Linked DNA regions of Homo sapiens: region 1 is linked to region 2. A link means that fine-mapping ties the variant in region 2 to the expression of a gene that starts in the linked region. Tissue or cell type: whole blood. Region 2 holds a variant in brackets; the other region holds the start of a gene. All regions are shown on one strand. Distances are from middle to middle. Region 1 holds the start of CPEB2 (cytoplasmic polyadenylation element binding protein 2). Region 2 holds the start of LINC00504 (long intergenic non-protein coding RNA 504).

Region 1 (10,658 bases), 120 kb after region 2:
TTGCACCAAGTAGTTAGTCAAGTTCTGAATGCAAAGGAAAAGTTCTTGAAGGAAATTAAAAGTACTATTCCAGTGAACACGAGTGATAAGAAAGTGAAACAGCTTTATTGCTGATATAGAAAAAGTGTGAATGGTCTGGATAGAGAAAATTAAACCAGCCACAACATTCCCTTAAGCTGAAGCCTACTCCAGAGCAAGGCCCTAACTCTCTTCAATTCTGTGAAGGCTGAGAGAGGTGAGGAAGCTGCAGAAGAAAAAAGTTCAAAGCTCGCAGAGGTCGGTTCGTGTTTAAGGAAAGAAGCTGTCTTCGTAACATAAAAGTGCAAGGTAAAGCAGAAAGTGCTTATGGAGAAGCTGCAGCAAGTTATCTAGAAATCTAGCTAAGATAACTGATGAAGGTGGCTACACTAAATAAGTTTTCACGTAGAAAAAACAGCCTTCTATTGGAAGAAGGTATCATCTAGGACTTTCATAGCTGGAAAAGTCAATGCCTAGCTTCAAGCTTCAAAAGACAGACTCTTTTCTTAAGGGCTAATGTAGCTGGTGACCTTAACTTGAAGCCAATGCTCATTAATCATTCTGAAAATCCTAGGGCCCTTAAGAATCATGCTAAGTCTACTCTGCCTGTGCTTGGTAAATGGAACCACAAAACTTGGAAAGAGCATAGTTTACTGAACATTTTAAGTCCACTGTTGAGATCTACTGCTTAGAAAAGAAGATTGCTTTCAAAATATTACTGCTCATTGACTATATACCTGGTCACCCAAGAGTTCTGATGGAGATGTACAAGAAGATAATTGTTGTTCTCATACCTGCTAACCCAACTTCAATTCTGCAGCCCATGGATTCAGGAGTAATTATGAGTTTCAAGTATTATTATTATTATTTTTGAGACAAAATCTGGCTCTGGCTATAAGACTGGAGTTCAGTGGCACTATCTCGGCTCCCTGCAACTTCCGCCTCCCAGGTTCAAGCGATTCTCCTGCCTCAGCCTCCCAATTAGCTGAGATTACAGGCATGCGCCACCACACCCAGCTAATTTTTGTATTTTTAGAAGTGAATGGTTTTCACCATGTTGGCAAGGCTGGTCTTGAACTCCTGACCTCAAGTGACCTGCCCGCCTTGGCCTCCCAAAGTGCTGAGATTGTTTTGAAATAAAGCTGCTATTAAGCAATTCTTCTAATAATGCAACTAACTCCTCTTTATAATTCTATTTTCATTTTAAAATTTAAAATCACTAAGTTGTCACCAGGACAGCCTCAAGTATTATTTTAGAAATAAATTTCATAAGGCTATAGCTGCCATAGTGATTTCTCTGATGGATAAGGGCAAAGCAAATTGAAAACCTTCTGGAAGGGATTCACCATTCTAGCTGCCATTCAGAATATGTGTGACTCATGGGAGGTCAAAGTGTCAACATTAACTGGAGTTTGGAAGAAGCTGATTCCAACCCTCTTGGATGACTTCGAGGGGTTCAAGACTTCAGTGAAGGAAGTTACTGCAGATGTAGTAAAAATAGCAAGAGAACTAGAATTAGAAGTGGAGCCTGAGGATGTGACTGAATTGCTGCAATATTACAATAAAACTTGAATGGAGAAGGAGTTGCTGCTCATGGATAAGCAAAGAAAGTGGTTTCTTGAGACGGAATCTACTCCTCATGAAGATGCTATGAACACTGCTGAAATGACAAAAAAGATTTAGAATATTACATAAATTTAGATGATAAAGCATTAGCAGGTTTTGAGAGGACTGACTAATTTTGAAAGAAGTTCTGTGGACAAAATGCTATCAAACAGCATTGCATGGTACAGAGAAATCTTTCATGAAAGGGAGATTCAATTTATGTGACAAACTCTATCTTTGTCTTAAGAAATTGCCACAACCACCTCCGCCTTCAGCCACCACCATGCTGATCAGTCAGCAGCCATGAATGTCGAGACAAGACTCTCCACTGACAAAAAGATTATGACTTACTGAAGGCTCAGATGATCATTAGCACTTTTTAGCAGTATTTTTAAATTAATGTGTGTATATTTTTCAGAATAATGCTACTGTGCACTTATTTAAATGTAATTACAAGTTATGTTTAGACTATAATTGAGAACTTATGTTTAGAGTATAATATACTGTAAACATAACTTTTACATGCACTGGGAAACCAAAAAATTGGTGTGACTTGCTTTATTGGGATATTTGCTTTATTGTGGTAATCTGGAACAAAACCCACGGTATCTCTAGGTTATGCCAGTAATTTAAAGGTAGGACAAGCAACATGTTCTGATGGCTTGGATATGATGCAAGAAGGACAGAAGTGGATTGAAGTGAAGAATGACTCCAGGGTTTTTGGCCTGAGCAACCAGAACAATGGAGCGCCACAGGGATTGGGCCTAGTGAGGCAGGGAGTTTAATTTTTGACGTGTTTAATTTGAGGTATCTATGAGACACTCAGTCAAATGGGCAAGTCGTTCAGGCAATGTAAAAGCAGAAAAAGAAGGCAGTAGCTAAAGGAGGGAGAATATAAGGTCAAAAGGTTTTGGCTTTACTTTTCAAAGGTGAGAACTAGTAAAGCAAGTTTTTGTGCACATGGAAGTGTTTCCTGGAGAGGAAAGAGGTCATGATGAAGGACAGAGAGAGAAAACTGTTGGAGCCCATGTCTTGAGTAGGTTAGAGGTAGGATCTGCTCCGCCAGTGGAGAGGCTGGCCTTAGACAGGAGTATGGGCAGATGGGCCATCCATTGTATCGAGAGGGAAGGCAAGGTGTGCAGGGACAGATGCAGGGAGACTGTGGAAGTTTTCCTGTGGTTGCTTCTTTTTTCTCAGTGAAATAAGCATGTAGCTCAGCAGCTGAGAGTGCTACATGCTAGCAGATGCATGTAGGAGAGATGTGACAAGAGGTTTTCAGATTGAGCAGAATGTTTGAAATGGTCTAGGACAGTGGTTTTTCAGTTCATAATCTGATAGAGGGTGTTAAAACCAACTTTGTAATTTGAGATCAAACGTGATTTTAAAATGAAAATAGAATTATAAAAAGGAGTTTGTTGCATTATTAAAAGAATTGCTTAATAGCAGCTTTATTTCAGTTGCATGAGTGTGTACTTGCACATATATTGGGTTGTAGCAAAAATACTTTTAAAAATACTTGCCCAGGACAGTGGGAGTAAATGAATAAGGGACTGTCAAATACAAAGTCAAGGTCCTAGTTAATGATCATGAGTCAAAATATTTTCATGTAAAAAACCAAAAAAATCATTGAATGGACTCATAAGATCTTGGCATGGAAACTGCTAGAGGACCATAGTCCCTCCTCAGTATTTGCTGCTCCTTCTCCCTACCCCACTCCACTCTCCACCCTAGGAAACCTTTTCATTTGAATATTTTCAATAAGGGCAAGATCACCAGCTTACAAGATGTCAGAAAGTAACTTTCTGCTCTAAAAAAATGGGGCCCTCACAAAAGTAGTGAGTAGAGGCCCTGGCAGGATTTGGAATTTGGTGTATTTAATATGAAGTTTGACATTATTATGTAATAACAAACTTGATGGCTTTTCCCCGTTTCAGAGAGCTCTAAATCCTCTAAGACAAAACTAGTACCAGAGCACTAAGAAATCTTGTTTTTGTTCAAAACTCTAGCCCAGAAAGGCACCAGTTAGCTTTTAAAAGTATGTGCTCTCTCCTCTTTACTAACTGCGGTGTTAGTGGATAATTGAGCTAAGGTTTATACCTGTATTTTCCCCCTATTTCAAGATTTGTTGTTGGATCTGCAAATGATTCCAATCAAATACAACTGTACTTGGAAAAAAATCATCCGTTGTTAAGACTTTACATTCCTTAGTTGCAGAAGTAGTTTTTTTTCCTGCACAATACCTTTTAAAAAATGAATATTTAATATGTCAATATATACTCTGAAAATAACCATTTATATTTTAAATTCTGAGCTCAGGTTATTTTCTAGACATTGTAATTTAGAATAAAAATACTTCTCCAGTTCTACATTTTGCCTGACTGTTAAAAATGATTTTGAGATTAATAAGTTGAACCAATTTTCTATTCACCTGACCAAATTCTGAACCATTTGAGTTTTTTAAAAAGTACTTTTTCCTTATTGTAAAGGCAACATAAAACTTGGTTCATTGGACAGGATAGCAGAGATAAACATTATACATGAAGTATAGTTCCCTGGGGCAATGTTGCTCTCTTTCTACCATGTTTATTTCGATTTATATAAATTTGAGACACTGAACAGAAGTAGAATTCAAATAGAGAATGAGGACTTATAAAAATGTACACTCTGCCTACATCAGTAAGAGTATGCTAATTTATAAAATTAAATATTTAATCTTAGTTCACTTGTAAACCAAAATCAAGTAAAGTCTGAATCCACCTTCTATTGCTTTGGGGGTTTGAGTCTATATTCTAGGATTCATTTAATAGTTTCATTTCTCTAAGCATCAAGCAAAACAGTTAAAATTACAAAACAGAAACATAAAGTTCACCTCATCATGTAGTATGGATCACTCTGTTATTCTTTATCTAGACCTTCAAATACTTTATGTAAAATGTTTCTATACAAAAGGAAACACAGGATTAGTTCCTCCTCTAATGCTTCTAAAGAGCTCTACCATGGAAAGCTCTCTCCCTTCCATTTTGCAAGTCTCAACAAGTCTGCTGCTGAGTCAGAACCTCCTTTTTTCCCTGATGTAAGAACTATTTCTCCCTTGAAAATTCATAAAGCTTAGGAATAAATTAGAGTCTCCCTGGGGGGAAGGGGCGGGGACGCCGGAATGAATGTGGTGGGGAGGAGTCCCACGCTGCAGCCCTGATGGCACACGAAAGGCTTTTATGAAGCGGAGCTGGCCCGGGGTTACTATGGGAGCTCGCCGTGGAACCCGTTCCACGCATCCGAGTGTGTAAATAACCACGCGGAGCGTGTTTGTTCCAGGGACTTTGTTCCTTCTTACCCAAGTGAAAATGCCTGGAATATAGCCGAGGCTTCATGTTTACCCTACAGAAACACCCTCGGCGGCTCTACGACGTCGGTGACAGCACTCCTACCAGCGCCTAAAAACAGAAACAAGCTTAGAGGGCGCTACCTAGGGCTACAAGGAGGCCCTAGATCGGGGACTCGGGGTCTAGAGGTGCGCGGCGAGGCGCTCAGCGGACTTCAAGCCGGCAGAGCCCAGACGCTAGTTCACCACAGGACCCCCGGGCTGGGCCGGGCTCCCGCGTTGCGCTGGGGGCCCCTCGGGCGCCTATTTCTACGCGGGTCGCACAGTGCAGGCGCCGGTCGGGGTCCCGGGCCTCAGTTTCCCCCGCGGGCCAGCCCCGCTCTGGGAAGCCCGAGTGGTGCAGCAGGGCTTCTCCCCACCCAGGGCGGAACCGAGGTGACAGGAAGGAGGAGGCACCGCGAGGGGCGGAGACGCGTGCGACCCAGGCAGACTCTGCGCGGATCCCGCGCCAAGGAGGGGCCGTTGCCCAGGAACCGTCCCTCCCTCCCGCGCGTGCTTGCCCTCGTGCGCGCGCCCGCCCAATGCTCCCGACCACTGTTTGCCAGCCGACCCCCACCCCAACCGGCCTGTCCATTTCCCCGGGAGCGGAGAGACCCAACGGGACACGCCGCTCGCTCCCGCCCTCCCGGGAGCGCGAGCGCGCCCTCGGCTGCGTCTGCATAGTAATGAGGGGCGGGGAGGGGCGACGGGGACGCGGTGGCCTCGCGCCCGCGCGTGCCGGGACGCACCGCGGGGGGCGGCGCGATTGTGAGGTGGCGCTGACGCACGTTCCGGGGTTCTTAAGCGGCCAGGGCGGCTACGGCGACTGCGACGGCGGCGGCGGCGGCGATCGCCGCGAGGGGTGGTGGGGCCGAAGTCGGTGCCCCCTGGCTCAGTCACGGTGTCCCTCTCTCACTGACTCCCCCTCCTTCCACCACGGCCGCGCAACCCCAGCGCCGGCGGCTTCCTAGGTGGGGCAGGGGACGAGGAGCGTCTCCTCCCGCTGCCGGCGGCCTGATAAATGAGGGATTTCGGGTTTGGGGTGCTGCAGACCGCCCCGCTCCGAAGTAGCAGTCCTGGGCCCCTGTTCTGCGGCGAGGCGTATGGTCCTTACGCCGTGGGGTCCGTCAACCCGCTGCCCTCCGCCACGCCCTTCGGCCCACTGTCGCCACCACCGTTGCCTGTCACCGGCTTCTTAGAGGCCGCCTCCCCCTTCTCCGTCCCCCTCGGCGGCGGCGCGGGCAGCCCGGCCGCCGCCGCTTCCTCTTCCTCCCCGTTCCTGGCGCATCAGCAGACCATGCAGGATGAGCTGCTTCTGGGGCTGACACAGCAGCCGGCGCGGCCGCTTTCGGGGGCGGCGGCCACGGAGAAACTCCCCGACCACCACCCCGGCGGCGGCACGATCGCGGGTGTGACCCACCTCCTCCCCTCCCAGGACTTCAAACCGAGTCTGCACCACCCCTCCTCCTCCTCCGCCTCCTCCTGCTGCTGCTGCCGCACCTCCTCCCCGCAGGACTTCAGTAAGCGGCAGCAGCAGCAGCTGAGCAGCCAGAAGAGGAAAGAGTTCAGCCCTCCCCACCTTCCCCACCCTCCGGACTCGAAGCCGCCGCCGCCGCCTCCGCCGCTCCACTGCCCCGGTCGGTTCAGCCCGCCGCCGCCGCCAGCCGGCCCGCTCCTCCAGCCGGCGCAGCTCGCTCAGCGCCAGCAGCAACAGCCGCCGCAGCAGTTCAGCCTCCTGCATCAGCAGCACCTCTCGCCGCAGGACTTCGCCCCGCGGCAGCGTCCGGCAGACCTGCCCCCGCTCCCGCAGCTCCCTCCCTCGCCGCCTGCAGCCCCGCGGCGCCGCCACGGAGGCGCGGGCAGCCCTCGCAAGACCCCAGCCGCGGGCGAGGGCAGCGCCGCCGAGTCCCCCAATGCGGGCTTGGCCTCCTCGACGCCGGTGAACCCCGCGCCGGGCTCCATGGAGTCCCCCAACCACCCTCTGCTCAACAGTCCCAGTAACCTCCTGCCCGGAGGTGCGCTTGGCGCGGGCGCCTTCAGCAGCCTGCAGAGCCCGGACCTTCCACACCCGGGCGGCGGCGGCGGCGGCGGGGGCGGGGGGCCCCCAGGAGGCGGAGGGGGAGGCGGCTCCGCGTCGCCGCCGCCGCTGCCCGGCTTCGGCACCCCCTGGTCGGTGCAGACCGCGTCGCCGCCACCCCAGCCCCAGCAGCCGCCGCCGACCCAGCCGCAGCAGCAGCCGCCGCCACCCCAGCAGCCGCCCCAGCCGCAGCCGCAGCCGCCCGGCTCGTCTGCCACCACCCCGGGCGGCGGCAGCGGCGGCTCGCTCAGCGCCATGCCGCCGCCCAGCCCCGACTCAGAGAACGGCTTCTACCCCGGGCTGCCGTCGTCCATGAACCCGGCCTTCTTCCCTAGCTTCTCGCCCGTGTCGCCGCACGGCTGCACTGGGCTCAGCGTTCCGACGAGCGGCGGCGGCGGCGGCGGCTTCGGCGGCCCCTTCTCGGCTACCGCTGTGCCCCCTCCGCCGCCGCCCGCCATGAATATACCTCAACAGCAGCCCCCGCCGCCCGCGGCGCCGCAGCAGCCGCAGAGCCGGAGGTCGCCCGTCAGCCCGCAGCTCCAGCAGCAGCACCAGGCGGCGGCCGCCGCCTTCCTGCAGCAGAGGAACTCCTATAACCACCACCAGGTACGGCGGGCGGCGGCCTGGCCGCGCCGCGGGACCGGGAGACCATGGGCGGGGGACGGAGGCGGGGGCAGGGCAGCCGGGGACCCGACCTTAGCCCCGAGAGAAGCCGCGACGGGGGCCACTCGCCCAAGTGAGAGTGGAACTGAGGGCGGACAACCGTGACAGGACTCGGAACCCCAGCCCCCGGTGGGTTGGGAGGGCAGTGGCCACCGTGGGCTGTGGGGGCGTGGGAGACGAGTTCGCGCTGGGAGCCGCGGCTGGCCGGGCGCCCCCTCGAACGTCCCGGCGCAGCAGTGGGGACTGGGGCAGGGGCCGAATAGCGCCGGGGCCGCGGGCGGCCGGGCGCGGCGTCTCAACCCGGCCCTCCTAGCTGGCGCACCCCGGGATCCGCCCTGTGCCCTGGGCCTGGAGGGCCGCCGCCCCGGACCCCCGACGCGGGGAGGCGCGGCGAGGACCGGGGGCTGGCCGGGGGCCTCGGAAGAGCGGCCGTGGGAAGTGAACTTGGGCAGGGGAAAAATGATTGCTGGAGAAGGTGCGTGCGGAGGAGCCCAAGACTCTGTCTCGCTGTCCAATGAGGGAAGGCGGAAAGGCTTTTTTTTTTCTTTGGAGTTTGTTTATTCTTATTTGGCCGGCGGTGATCTCGCCTTGAAGCCTCAGCCCCTCGGGCGGTCAGTCGAGCCGCTCCCAAAGCTCCGCCCGATCAACCTGCTGGCAGCGCCGCACCCTGGGCCGCCGGCCCAGGAGGGAGTCGGGAGGGAGCGGCCGACCGCCCTCCTCGCAGGACCTGGTTCCCGCGGGGCCGCCTCCTTGGCTGTCACAGGACTGGGAAAGAGAAACTGTTAGTGACCGCTCGGGTTCAAACCGAGATATCCCACGAATGTCTTAGTTTCTGTGCTTTTCAATGTTGGGGTCATGTTTTGTGGGTTTTAAGACAAAACTGAACTTGGATCTGGGATTGGTGTGTTTCCTCGTAGACTTTCGGTACATTTTTTGGTTGCCTTAACCTTCTACAAGGGAATATGTGGGCCGTGTGTATTTTAAGTAGGTAATATTGTGAAATGACACTGGGCAGAATTTTTATTTTCCGGATCTTTTTTGATTCAAGATCTTTTTTGTTATTCCCTCAATACAATTTTTGGGTGACCGCTAGATTGGTAAATTGGCATTGAAAGAGTGTCTTGTTGGTTTTGAATCTTGTTAGCATTTGTTGCAGAGTTCATTCTGTTTAAGTCCATTTTCTATTTTCGTGATTAAGGATTGACAGAGACGCAAAATATGACCTTAACCCCATAACTTTTTCAGTTGACCAAAGTTTTCAAGGATTAGTCTTTTTAAAGTGAATATTATCTAAATTAACCCAAGTGAAAGTTAACAGTTTATCTAAGTTAACCAAAGTGACAGTGAACAGTTTTTGTTGAATCACTGATTTCTTTCTTAGAAAAGAGAATGTGGCCTATGAGGATTGAAAATAGGGATTTTGAAATAATGTTCCACTTTTTCATGATTTTTATAACCCTCAGCAACTGTCTTTTGTGTCTCAGGATCTTCATTTTGTTATCTGGAAACTTGCCCACAGAAAATTATCTGTAGGTAATTTTGTATTTACTTAAAGTTGTGGTACAGAGCGTTGGAAGAACATATACCATGATCCATATTTAACTGTAATTTGCTTTTGGACAAAAGATGGGTCTAGCCATGGAGTGTGAGAGGTCACACAGCTTTCATATGGAATTTTAGATCACTGGAAGATAACTTTGAGCATTAAATCATTTAATAAGGAGAGTAAGGCCCTCAAGAATGAAGTGGTTTGTCCATGGCTCTGTAATTATGCTTTGGACCTCTGTGGAAGAGGAAAGAGTAATAATATACTCATGATTATGTTAGCATTTAAAAGTGTTTAAAAATTGGTGCTGTAGATCAGGAGTTTCTCTTTTAATTGTCTTACAAAAAGCAGGTTCAATTTTAAGAGAACCATATTTATTTGTAGTAACTGTATGGTTCATACTTCTTTAGCTACATCTTAACACCAAAGTATTAAAGTATAAACTTACTGACAGTAGAATTACCAGCAATGAATACTTCTTAAAAAAAAAAAAAACCCAAAACTACAATTATTAGCGTTTTGATGGATTTACCATTCTTTGATGATTTGACTTGTCTTGCCACAGGTTTGAGATTAGGATGTAATTTACTTTTGAAAATGAATCAACTTGATGGAGACTTGTATCAAGATCTCTAGTGGAATAATCAAAGCATATAGTTAATTAGCAGTATACCTCAGTGGATCCACCTATGGGCAACATCAGATAATTGCTTCACAGTTTATGGATAATTAAGTGAAATAAAAACAATTAAGACAAACTATGCTAAAACTGGAATAAAATGCCTTAACAGTTAAATAAACAATGCAGAAAAATGACATAGTTTCTATACTGTCCTTATTTCAAAAGGCGATTTTAATTTGTACAAGAGTAATTCCCACTTTTGTAGTAGTGCAACTTGTTTTGGAAACATAAAGTCTATATATTTCACTTGTATGAGTAGGATATTTTAATTAACAAAGACCATATTTTTAGTTGTGTGCCTAGCATAATTAATATGGTTGCTTTAAGATCACCATGTATGTTATATCTTTAAGAATCTTCAGAGTTAATTTCAATTTTTTTCTTCATATTTATCATGTATACAGTTATCTCTGAAGGATAAAAAGGAACTGCATGGTTCTATTTTAGTAACTGTCATAAAATATCATGATATTTATAGTATACAAGAAGATGAAAACTTGACCAGCATCAAATATGATTTCACATAGAAAGATCTCAAGACTGTTACTTTTATAACCTAGAAAAGATGTATTCTTTTGCCTTTATATATTTCATTCATATAAATTCTTAGGTCTGAAATTTGAATTTGAATTTGAATTGTAAATTCTTTAAATGCCGCAATTTAAATAGCTATGTTTTCCCTAGCCTCTTCTGAAACAGTCTCCCT
Region 2 (10,658 bases):
TTGGAGGGCTGGGCAGGCGTTATACCATGCTAAACTGAGCGGATCCTGCTGAACCTGCTGAGCAGTGTGGAGGAGTGGGAAACAAGGGTGATTACAGTCATCCCAGACAAGAGATGATAGAGATATTCCACAAGGTGGAATTTAAGCTAAGACCTAGAAAACAAGAAGGAGCCAGCCATAGGGAAACCAGAGAAAAGAATATTCTAGGCAGAGAAACAAAAAACTGTGAAATCCCCAAGAATGGAAGATGCATGGAGCAATAAAAAGTCAGGGGGTGGTTGAAAGAAGCAAGAGCAGTGAGATTGGTGAGGGAGGAAAACCCTGAGGTCCACCCTGTTCACGTTTGAATTTTCTTCACAGGGAAGTCTTTGGAGCGTTCTAAACAGCCAATTTCCATGATCTCATTAGCATTCGTTTTTAAAGACTATCTTCTTATTGTGTGGGCAGTGGACCGCTGGGAAGTGAGAATGCAAGCAGGAAGAACAGACAGGGGTTTATTGACATATTCCAGTAAAGAATGATCAGGATGGCCAAGGGGCAGAGTGACTTGGCCAGATTAGAAAGAAGTTAGAAGTTTTGGAGATAGAATGGGCAGAAATAGCTCATGGCATAGAGAATGGTGATAAGAAGAAAGAAAATCTGACTCGTTTGCAAGTGCCACTGAATATATGGTAGTGTATTTACCAACGGGGAAGATGGGCAGATGAGCGAGGTCTGATTTTGGGGGTGGATAGAGGAAATATGGAAATCAAGGGCTCTCTTTTGAATGTGTTATGTTTGAGATGCATTTTAGATCTGTAAGTGGAGATGTCACCTAGCAGATGGTTATATAGGTTTCACTCTATGACTAGAGACAAAAAGTTGAATATCATTAGCATATAGATGGTATTTGAAGACATGGGACTGGAGGTACAGGACGTACCTAGACAGAAAGTGAGACAGAGAGAAAAAGGAGATTTGGGGTCATACTTGTGGCCAACCGACATTTTAAGACAGAGAAGAAGAGAAAATTGAGTAGGACTAGCCTGTGAGATTATTACTGGCCTGTGAGAGAATGTGGTTTCAGAGAAACCAAAAGCAGGGGTATTGCAGTGGGGCTGGATGGTGGGGTTGTGGGGTAGGAAGATATTTTAAGAAGGGAAAAGTGGGTCAGACACAGTGGCTCATGCCTGTAATCCCAGCACTTTGGGAGGCCGAGGCCAGTGGATCACAAGGTCAGGAGATAGACACCATCCTGACTAACATGGTGAAACCCTGTCTCTACTAAAAACATAAAAAATTAGCCAGGCATGATGGCACATGCCTGTAGTCCCAACTACTTGGAAGGCTGAGGCAGGAGAATTGCTTGAATCTGGGAGGCAGAGTTTGCAGTGAGCCGAGATAGTGCCACTGCACTCTAGCCTGGGCGACAGAGCGAGACTATGTCTCAAAAAAAAAAGTGAACGACTGTATCTGATGTAGCAGATAGGGCAGGTAAAATGTGAACTGAGAAATAGCCATTATATTTATAACCCAACCCTCTAACACCACACTACTGGCCCATAGTAGATGATCAATAAATGTAAGTTGAATTCATTGACTGAAAGAACTAGCCCAGGAATGGCAAATATAGAACAGTTTTAGCTTCCAAGTTACAACAATTATTGCCTTTTTGAAAATAATTGAGACTCAGCCCCAGAATCCTTAAGCACTATCGAGTAATTAGAATTGTCATGCAGATTTAATCTATTTGCCATTCCTGGTGTAGACTAAACAATCAGGACAGGACTTTTCATCAGAGTTGTTCAATAGAGCCTCATTAGCCCAGCTTCAGGAGGAACCACAAACCATCTGCTAAGAGTCTTGCAGCGGGAATTCCTGCTCTGGTGGAGCCTGAACCAGGTGATCGCTAAGGCCCTTCAGAGAGTCTGTGGTTCAGATGGCAATTCCTTCTAACATGCAGCTGTTCAAAGCACAAAGAGAAAAATCCAACCTAGCCTAGGGTTAATAAGGGCAAACTAAATCTTTCCTAAAACTTCCTTCTATGCATTTTTTCTCCCTCTTATCTTTACTGGCCTCCTGAAATGTCTTATCTGCAAAGACATGATTCTGTTCTAAATCTCTGTCTATGAACACAGTTATCATTTTTGCTTCTTCCACACGATAACATTAACCTAACTTACCCATTCAGCCATAGGCAGACTGTCTTCATCTCTAAATGATGCACTCCCCCACATAAAATAAAGGCAGACACTTTTATTCTTTAGTCCAAAGTACTTAGCATTATGAAGAGACAGCTGCTGCAGACAAATCTTGGGTCTTTGGAACCTTAATACTTTGAAATTTATTCCTCTTCACCACCTGGAGGCTCATGAGTCCATTTGTGGACTCTCCCACCTAATGCTGCCTTGCAAGTTAATGAGCAGTTGGTACATAGACATGCAAGTTATAACTCTTCTATAACTGCCTACATCCATATTGCAGTTGAAAGGGCAGAAAATTAACCACTAGAAGTGTCTCAGTGCCCTCTATCTCCTCTCACCTTTATTCATTACTTCAACGAACATGTACTGCATGCCAGATTCCACACTGTTTTCTAGAATAGAATCAAGAGGTACAGTGAGGAATAAGATTTGGTTTTCTTTCCCACCTGGGGCTCATAAATGGGCTTTACAAGTTCTATATGTCCTTCTGAAATGACATTCAAAATGCTGCGTGTGTGTGTGTGTGTGTGTGTGTGTGTGTGTGTGTGTGTGTGTCTGCCTCCAGAAAGAGGTTTATAATTTTCATCAGATTTAGAATCCAAAAGAGCTAGGGATCAATGGGAACCTAAAGTCAGCTTTGACACTTCCCTTTCTGTCATCCCAGATGACATACAAACGAATCACCAAGGATTGCCAGGTTTGTTTTTCATTTTCCCCTAAATTGCTCTAGATCTATCTCCCACTGTCCATCCCCCACCTTAGTTCAAGCTACCCTCATTTCATTAGTTAACAGCCCTGCCTCCTACATGGCATCTCTGCCATCCTCCAATCTATTCTCCATACTGAAGTCAGAGCATATTTTCAGCTCTCTAATCTGATCATTTCGACCTCTTGCTTAAAACCTTTCAATGGCTTCCCACTGCTCTGAGCATAAATGCCAAGCTATAAACATTCCCATGAGCATTTGCAATCACGACACATTGTTCTCTACTATTCTCTTCGCTCTGTGAACTCCAGCCTCGTGCAACTTCATTTTCATCTTTAAATTCTCTTTCCACTCTCCTGCCATGGGGCTTGAGCACATTCTGCAATCTCTACCTGAAAGGCTTCTTCTCCTCTCCCTTCACCAAATTATATTGTAATAATCACTTCTACCACCCACTTCCCCTGACCTCCCTGACTAGGCTAAACGAGCTATTGTAAAACCTCCTAGCTCCATGAACTTCATACTCTTTGTCCAAGTTAGAATTGTGCAAACTTTATATGATCCATTGATTAATATTTACCCTTCAGCAAACCTGACTATGCATCATTGTATCCTAGGGCTTACAGAAACACTGGATACATAGAAGGCAAATGCTTGATTAATACTCAGTGAATGAACAAATGAATAACTGAGTGGATGAATAAAGAAGTAATGTAGCAGATGCTAAAAATAAAAGAAAGCACTGAGCATTGCCACAGCACAAAAAAAGGGACACATATCTTTAGGAGGTCATAAGGGCACGGATTGTACCTCCTATATCTTTAGTGTGTCCAGAGGTTATGATGCATGCATATATGCAATGTACATTGACTGAAAATATTAAATAGCAACTAAATCTGCCTGGATGAGTGACAGGAGGCTTCAAGAAGACTTAGCATTTGACATCAGTCATAAAGGAAAACTAAAACTATGCAGATCAGGCCAGGCATGGTGGCTCACACCTGTAATCCCAGCACTTTGGGAGGCCGAGATGGGTGGATCACCTGAGGTCGGGAGTTCGAGACCAGTCTGACCAACATGGAGAAACCCCGTTTCTACTAAAAATACAAAATTAGCCAGGCATGGTGTTGCATGCCTGTAATCCCAGCTACTCAGTACGGCTGAGGCAGGAGAATTGCTTGAACCTGGGAAGCGGAGGTTGCGGTGAGCCGAGATCACACCATTGCACTCCAGCCTGCGCAAGAGGAGAGAAATTCGGTCTTAAAAATAATAATAATAATAATAATACAAAATTAGCCCAGCATGGTGGGGCATGCCTGTAATCCCAACTACAAGGGAGGCTGAAGCAGGAGAATCTCTTGAACTCCGGGAGACAGAGGTTGCAGTAAGCCGAGATCGCGCCATTGCACTCCAGCCTGGGCAGCAAGAGCAAAACTCCGGCTCAAAAACAAACAAACAAAAAAAGTATTTA[G/A]ATCAAAGGGAGAAAGAGGCAGGCAAGTGGCATTTCAGACAGAAGAAAAGGCAGGTACAAAGGCATGAAGCCACAGAAAAGGAGGAAAAGTTCTTTGCAGAAAAAAGAGATTAGGTGAAGTAAACATGGAGATACACTTCCTAGATCCTCCTTCTGAGAGGGAAAAATTTTGTTTTCCCAGATGCTGGAAACATTCGCAGAGAAACATCTCCAGCGGTCAGCTCCTCAGGGGTGGCCTGGGCTGCAGAGAGCCATCTTACCCAAGGTCACACCATCCCAGAAGCAGCCCCCTCCCCACCACTGCTCAGACATTTGGGTCCACTGAGGGAAAATCTTAGCAGCAATTTTTCTCCAGAGCTCCCACTGGGGTAGGCAGAGGCCACCATTGGTACTGCATTACCATAGTTTATCTCTTCCCTCCATCCTTCCCCTCACAGGTGTTGATCTCACCTGAACACTAAACTCTGCACTTGAGTCTGCTTCTCAGAGAACCAGACTGCAAGCCTGGGTTATGCCATGAGTGGGTTTATGCAGAGGAATCAACTAGAAAGGTAGTTAAGAGAAGGATGGTGAGGGTTCTGCAATGCTGGGCCAATAGGTATGAGCTTACGCAGTTGGCAGTGAGAGACTGGGGGCCTTGTAATCGGAGGGTGCTGAGTTTAGGGTCTTTTATTGGAAAGACTTCTCTGGCTTCTGTGCAATGACTACATTAGAAGGAGGCAGAGAGGCGTGCTAAAAGGCCATTGGGTTAGTACAGGGAGGAGAAATGTGAGTTCCAAGATGGAGAAATAACCGATCATGGAGAGGAGGGGTGGTGTTGAGCAATTTAGGAGGAAAAATCAAAAGCCCCTCATGACACATTGACTATAGGGACAGAGTAAGGATGAATGGATAATGACACAGAAAGAGTGTGCTAATTCATTCCTAGGTGTGGCAGGGAGATTACTCCTAATTTAAAATTGCAACTTGCAAGAGGAGTTCTTTCTCCCAAGGCCTTTTCCAAGGCACTCCAGGTAGCAGAGAATTCAAATGGTAGCTAGAATTCTCCTTTAGCTTGAAATACATAATAAACCAGCAATGTCTTCTACAAAAAGCATCATTAACAAAGTTTGTGTTTGTTCATCAGTTAAGATCTTGGGGCTTTTTGCCTGATATCATTAATCGTCACGCTTGCTAAAGAACATTCTTCTATCAAACAGACGGGGATTCAAATAAAAGGAGCAAACATATGAATATGCAAGAAGGAAGGCCAAATTATTAATGCAGAATGAAGAAGAATCTGGCAGGAATATCCTTCATTCGACAAGTATTTATTGAGCGTCCTCTACATGCTAACCATTATGCCAGGGGCTGGGAATACAATGACGAGCAAAATGCTGCAGATTTCATGCCAGGAAGCAAGCACACATCTGAAGGAATTTTACATAAATACATAATGTGTTGCTGGTTCCAGCATGCCCCTCTTCATCGGTTTAGTTCAAATGTACTCCTATAACTCTTACTTTTGCACTGAAATTTCCTTCTGTTTTTTTTTCTCATTCATTGTGGCATAATAGAAAGAGTAGACAGGCATACCAATTGCCTTACTAATCATATGACCTTGAGTAAATTACACATCCTTCCAATGGGGCCAATTATACCAATCTCCGAGGGTATGCTTGAAAATACATTAAGATACTGTGTACCACAGCCAGTTAGCTATACAACATATCATATAAGCCTTTATGTGAATTCAACTATACCAAATTGGGATGGGAATGAGGGTAAGTGAGAAATAATAATTTAAATATATGACAAGGGCTGACTATATAATTTGTAGGGACCAGAGGAAAGTAAAATTGAGAGACTCCCTATTCAAAAATTAAGAATTTCAAGACAGTGATAGCAGAGCATTGGGCCAAGCACAGGGTTCTTCTGAGTGTGAGGCCCTTTACAATGGCACAGAATGCACAACCATGAGGTCGGCCCTGGACTTTCTTACTCCCCTGCATATCTAACATGGTGAATAAGTTCTATGATCAATATGATCTTAATTCTAAAATATATGTCTTGTTTACTTGGTTTTTGTTCACTTTGGCCGCTAACCAGAAGCGACCTTATTTTCATGGGCATAAAACCATATATGCAATCATTTGGCTTAAGGGATTTTCAAGGGTAGTTGTATTAGTCCATTTTCATGCTGCTGATAAACACATACCTGAAACTGGGAACGAAAAGAGGTTTAAGTGGACTTGCAGTTCGACGTGGCTGTGTAGGCCTCAGAGTCATGGTGGGAGGCGAAAGGCACTTCTAACATGGCAGAGGCAAGAGACAAATGAGGAAGAAGCAAAAGCAGAAACCCTTGATAAACCCATCAGACCTTGTGAGACTTACTCACTATCACGAGAACAGCACAGGAAAGACCAGCACAGGAAAGACCGGCCCCCATGATTCAATTACCTCCCCATGGGTTCCTCCCACAATATGTGGGAATTCTGAGAGATACAATTCAAGTTGAGATTTGGATGAGACACAGCCAAACCATATCAGTCGTTTTTACTCTATTTTCCCATTACACACTGGTTTCCTAAAGCCTGCAGGAGGTGAAAGCTCACCATAGCTGTCATTTCTGCTGAGCCTTTGACAGTAGGAGTCAACCTTGTGCCCAAGTCTGGATCACATGCTTTGCAGTGAGAACTTCATTCAAGCCACACAGCAAGCCTGCAGGATAAATAATACCATCCTCATTCTCTAGAGGAGGGAGAAACAGAGCCTCAGAGCAGGGAAGCAATTTGCTTAAAGTTACCCAGAAAATAAGTGGCAGATTTGGGATTCAAATACGGGTCTTTGGAGCACACTGTCCACATTCATTCACTGATATCTTAATAAATGGTTGTTCCTTCCAACTCTCTTCTGCAAATCTTGCCCTAACCTTTTGAAATGAAGAATTGTTTGGCAAATTAGGAACCTGATTTTCTGCATCCTGGTAGCAGAGAATGGCTTGCCAATTCAGTTCAGGCACGTAATGCTGGAGGCAGAGCAACAGAAGAGCCTGAAAGTCTGACCTGTGCTTCTAGAGCTCTGATTGCCACATGATGAAAACTCAGGGCTGACATCACCAGTCTCCAGCCTCCCAAACATGAGCCCATGTGGAGAGAATGTTATAAAGAGGAAAAAAATAAAGGTCATGTTAGAGTGAATGATAGGTATAATTAATGTTACTGACAATGAAAAGCTTAGGTGCTGAGAGAAAAATGAGTCAGCAGTGAGCTTGATGTTGAAACTACATGCTGCCTTGTTGCTCAAATACTTACCTATTAGGAAAAAAGAGCAATTTCCTGATCAATGCACACAAAATTCTGGGTTGAGAACACTAAGTGAAAAGTGGGAAAAAAGCCACTTGTGTGTTTTATTTCCAGCATGTGCACAGCCACATTTATGCATAATTTTGGGTTTGTCATTCCCCTTTATGAGTTTTTGTGATCTCAGTGTTTTAGCATGAAGGCCTTTCATAATCTGATCGTATCTTCCCTTTCTATGATCGTCCTCCCTAGTCTCTTCTCTAAATATCCAAATATTACTTCGTCATTCCAGAAGCAGCTCTACCTAGACATGAAGCCTTCCCTGGTCTCCAAATCAGAAATGCAGGCCATGAATGGGCATGAGCTGTTTGTTGAATGATGAGAAATTCAGTTTATTCCCTGATTTTAACTGGGAATGGCCTCATTCACCTCTCCACCTGGCAGGCATCTCCTCTCCATATTGACTCAATCACCTCTTTCTCCAGGTGTCCTCAGCACTTACTTCATACATCTATTATTGAGCTCAACAAGATGCACTGTACGACATATCTTTCCATTCCCCTAATAATATCTGATGTATCACTGAATTAATACATGGGGGTGTCTTCCCCATTAAACCATGGGATTTGTGAGAGTAACATCTTTATATTGCTCATCGTTGCAGCTCCCTCTGTGCTTGGCATAATATTTTGAACAAAATATGTGCTCAATAAATATTAACTAGATGTATTTACATCCATCAGGATTGCTTTTAATGATTACAGATCTGGCTTTTGGTGCCTCTTGTAAACAGAGGCAGTCTGATTATTTGATAACACAAAGATCTTACCAGACTGCAGGAGGGGTGTGAGGGAAAATATGTTCTGGACTGACACAGATGCTGCTGAATTAATAATTAAAAATTGCGTGCGATGTATAAATGATAGAACATCAAATTAGAAAGGACAACACAATGGTCTGTTTCCTGTTGAAAAAGAATTATCTGGTCCACTAATGAAGTAGAGCCATTAGTCTTGGCCATAGGAAATTAATAGCTACCTTCTTGTAGTGACTTGCCATGTGCCAAGTGTTTGCTGAGCCCTTTAGAATATTATCACATTAAATCCTTCCAACAGCCCTATGAAGAAGGTAGTACTTGTATCATCCCTTCCATATTCCTTTTTGGAGAGCAAGCTTGGGAGAAGTATGATAACTTGCCTAAAATTGCAGAGCCATGAAAGAACTGGATTCAAATCCAGGTATGTTGCTTCCAAAGTCCATGTTCTAAACTAGTCTGCTCTGTAGGTAAAATAAGGATGTCAGGTGATGTTTTTCAGCTCAGTTATAAGTGGAATCATCTATTCCATAGACTCCAGTCTCCTCATTCTACAAATGATAAAACTGAGACTCAGAACAATAAAGGAATGTAGGATCTTAGAATCTCATGGCTGAAATGAACATTAAAATTCATCTAGTCAAATATTCCTACATCCACCTGCTGACAATGTCTAACAACTTTGTTGAGATATAATTCACACATCATACAACTCACCCAATTTAAGTTACAATTCAGTAGTTTTTAATATATCCACAGTTATATGTTGATTACCACAATTTAATTTTAGAACATTTTATCACCCCCAAAAGAAATCTCATATCCATTAGCTGTGCTCCACATCCCAGCCCCAACCCCAGCCTTAAACAACCATGAATCTGTCTCCATGGATTTGCCTATTCCAAATATTTCATAGAAATTGAACTATACAATATGTGGTCTCCTGTGCTTGTCTTCTTTCACTTAGCATAACATATGCTTTTGAATATCTTGAAGTCACCTGAATACACAGCAGCAAATTTTTGGCAGCAACAATGAGTGGCTGGTGGGTGGGGAACATTTCCTCCAAATAATCTTCATTAGCCCCACCCCAATAGCTACCCCAAAATAAAAATAAAATTTAAATTAAGAGAGTATGTTTGATATTTGTTATGGTTTGAATTGTGTTTCCCCCTAATATTCATATGTTGAAGTTCTAACCCCAGTATCTCAGAATGTGAGCTCATTTGGAAACACAGGCTTTACAGAGGTAATGAAGTTAAAATGAAGTCATTAGAGTGGGCTTATATGATGGGTGTCCCCAGACACACGGGGAGAATGCCATATGAAGACTGGGTTTTGCCACCACAAGCCAAGGAACTATCAGATGTTAGGAAAGAGGCCCAGAACAGATCCTTCTCTCAGATGAAACGAACCCTGCCAACAGCTTGATTTTGGACTTCTGGCCTCCAGAACTATGAGAGAACCCATTTCTATTGTTCAGGCAACTCAGTTTGGGGTATTTTGTTGTAGCAGCCCTAGCAAACTAATACAACATTTAAACACAGCTTCTGCACAAATTTCCTAGTCATCGTCTCTGACAAGTACAATGCTACTCTGAGGCTCCTCGTCAGGCAAAATCTGAAAGTCAACATTTGTTTAAAATCAAATCCATGAGATTTTCACCTAAGCCTGGACTTCTTTCAGAGCTCCCTATTTCAGGCAATGGCAACACTAGCCAAACAAATATGCAAGCCAGAATTCTAGAGTCATCATTGACTTCTCTTCTCTTTTATGCCTACTTTCTCACAACACACACACACACACACACACACACACACACACACACACACATTTTAGGTCAAGAGTATTTCACAAGAGAATTCTATCAAGCCTATGAAGACAAATCAACCAAATATCTTTTAGAATGTTCCAGATCATTAAAACCTAAACCTCGACATTCCTTCATGAAGCCAGCAAAATGTTAGAATCTGAAAAAAACAAACAAACAAAAAGAAAAAAATGGAAACGTAATAAAGGATCTCTATACAAACCGTAGCTAAGACACAAGGCTGCATAATCTATGGGTGTTTAAAAGAATAATATAGCATGACCAAATACAAATTGATTCAGGAATTTAAGCCTACTTCCTTTTACTCTACTGGTCCACAATGTTATCATATGAGAAAATTAGAAATGGCCGACATGATTTGCCTGTTAAAAC

What was found.
Region 1: it holds the start of CPEB2, and the variant in region 2 is fine-mapped to the expression of CPEB2 in whole blood (TOPMed, PIP 0.98).

Annotation. Positions count from the first base shown.
Region 1 is chr4:14,996,669-15,007,326 of GRCh38, forward strand. It overlaps CPEB2 (cytoplasmic polyadenylation element binding protein 2), which reads left to right and starts at 5,813. Exons shown (of 12, transcript NM_001177382.2): 1 at 5,813-7,667; 2 at 10,637-10,658. The coding sequence starts at 6,006. CPEB2-DT (CPEB2 divergent transcript) reads right to left here and starts at 5,377. Exons shown (of 8, transcript NR_038857.1): 1 at 5,270-5,377; 2 at 4,958-5,057; 3 at 4,493-4,561. C1QTNF7-AS1 (C1QTNF7 antisense RNA 1) reads right to left here. Exons shown (of 6, transcript NR_125911.1): 5 at 9,803-9,902; 6 at 8,274-8,489. RefSeq lists enhancers at 4,802-4,851, 7,693-8,259 and silencers at 5,092-5,951, 6,452-6,761, 6,812-6,961, 7,062-7,271, 7,652-8,251.
Region 2 is chr4:14,881,502-14,892,159 of GRCh38, forward strand. It overlaps LINC00504 (long intergenic non-protein coding RNA 504), which reads right to left and starts at 6,668. Exons shown (of 7, transcript NR_126435.1): 1 at 6,558-6,668. The variant G/A (reference allele first, on the strand shown) is at 4,361.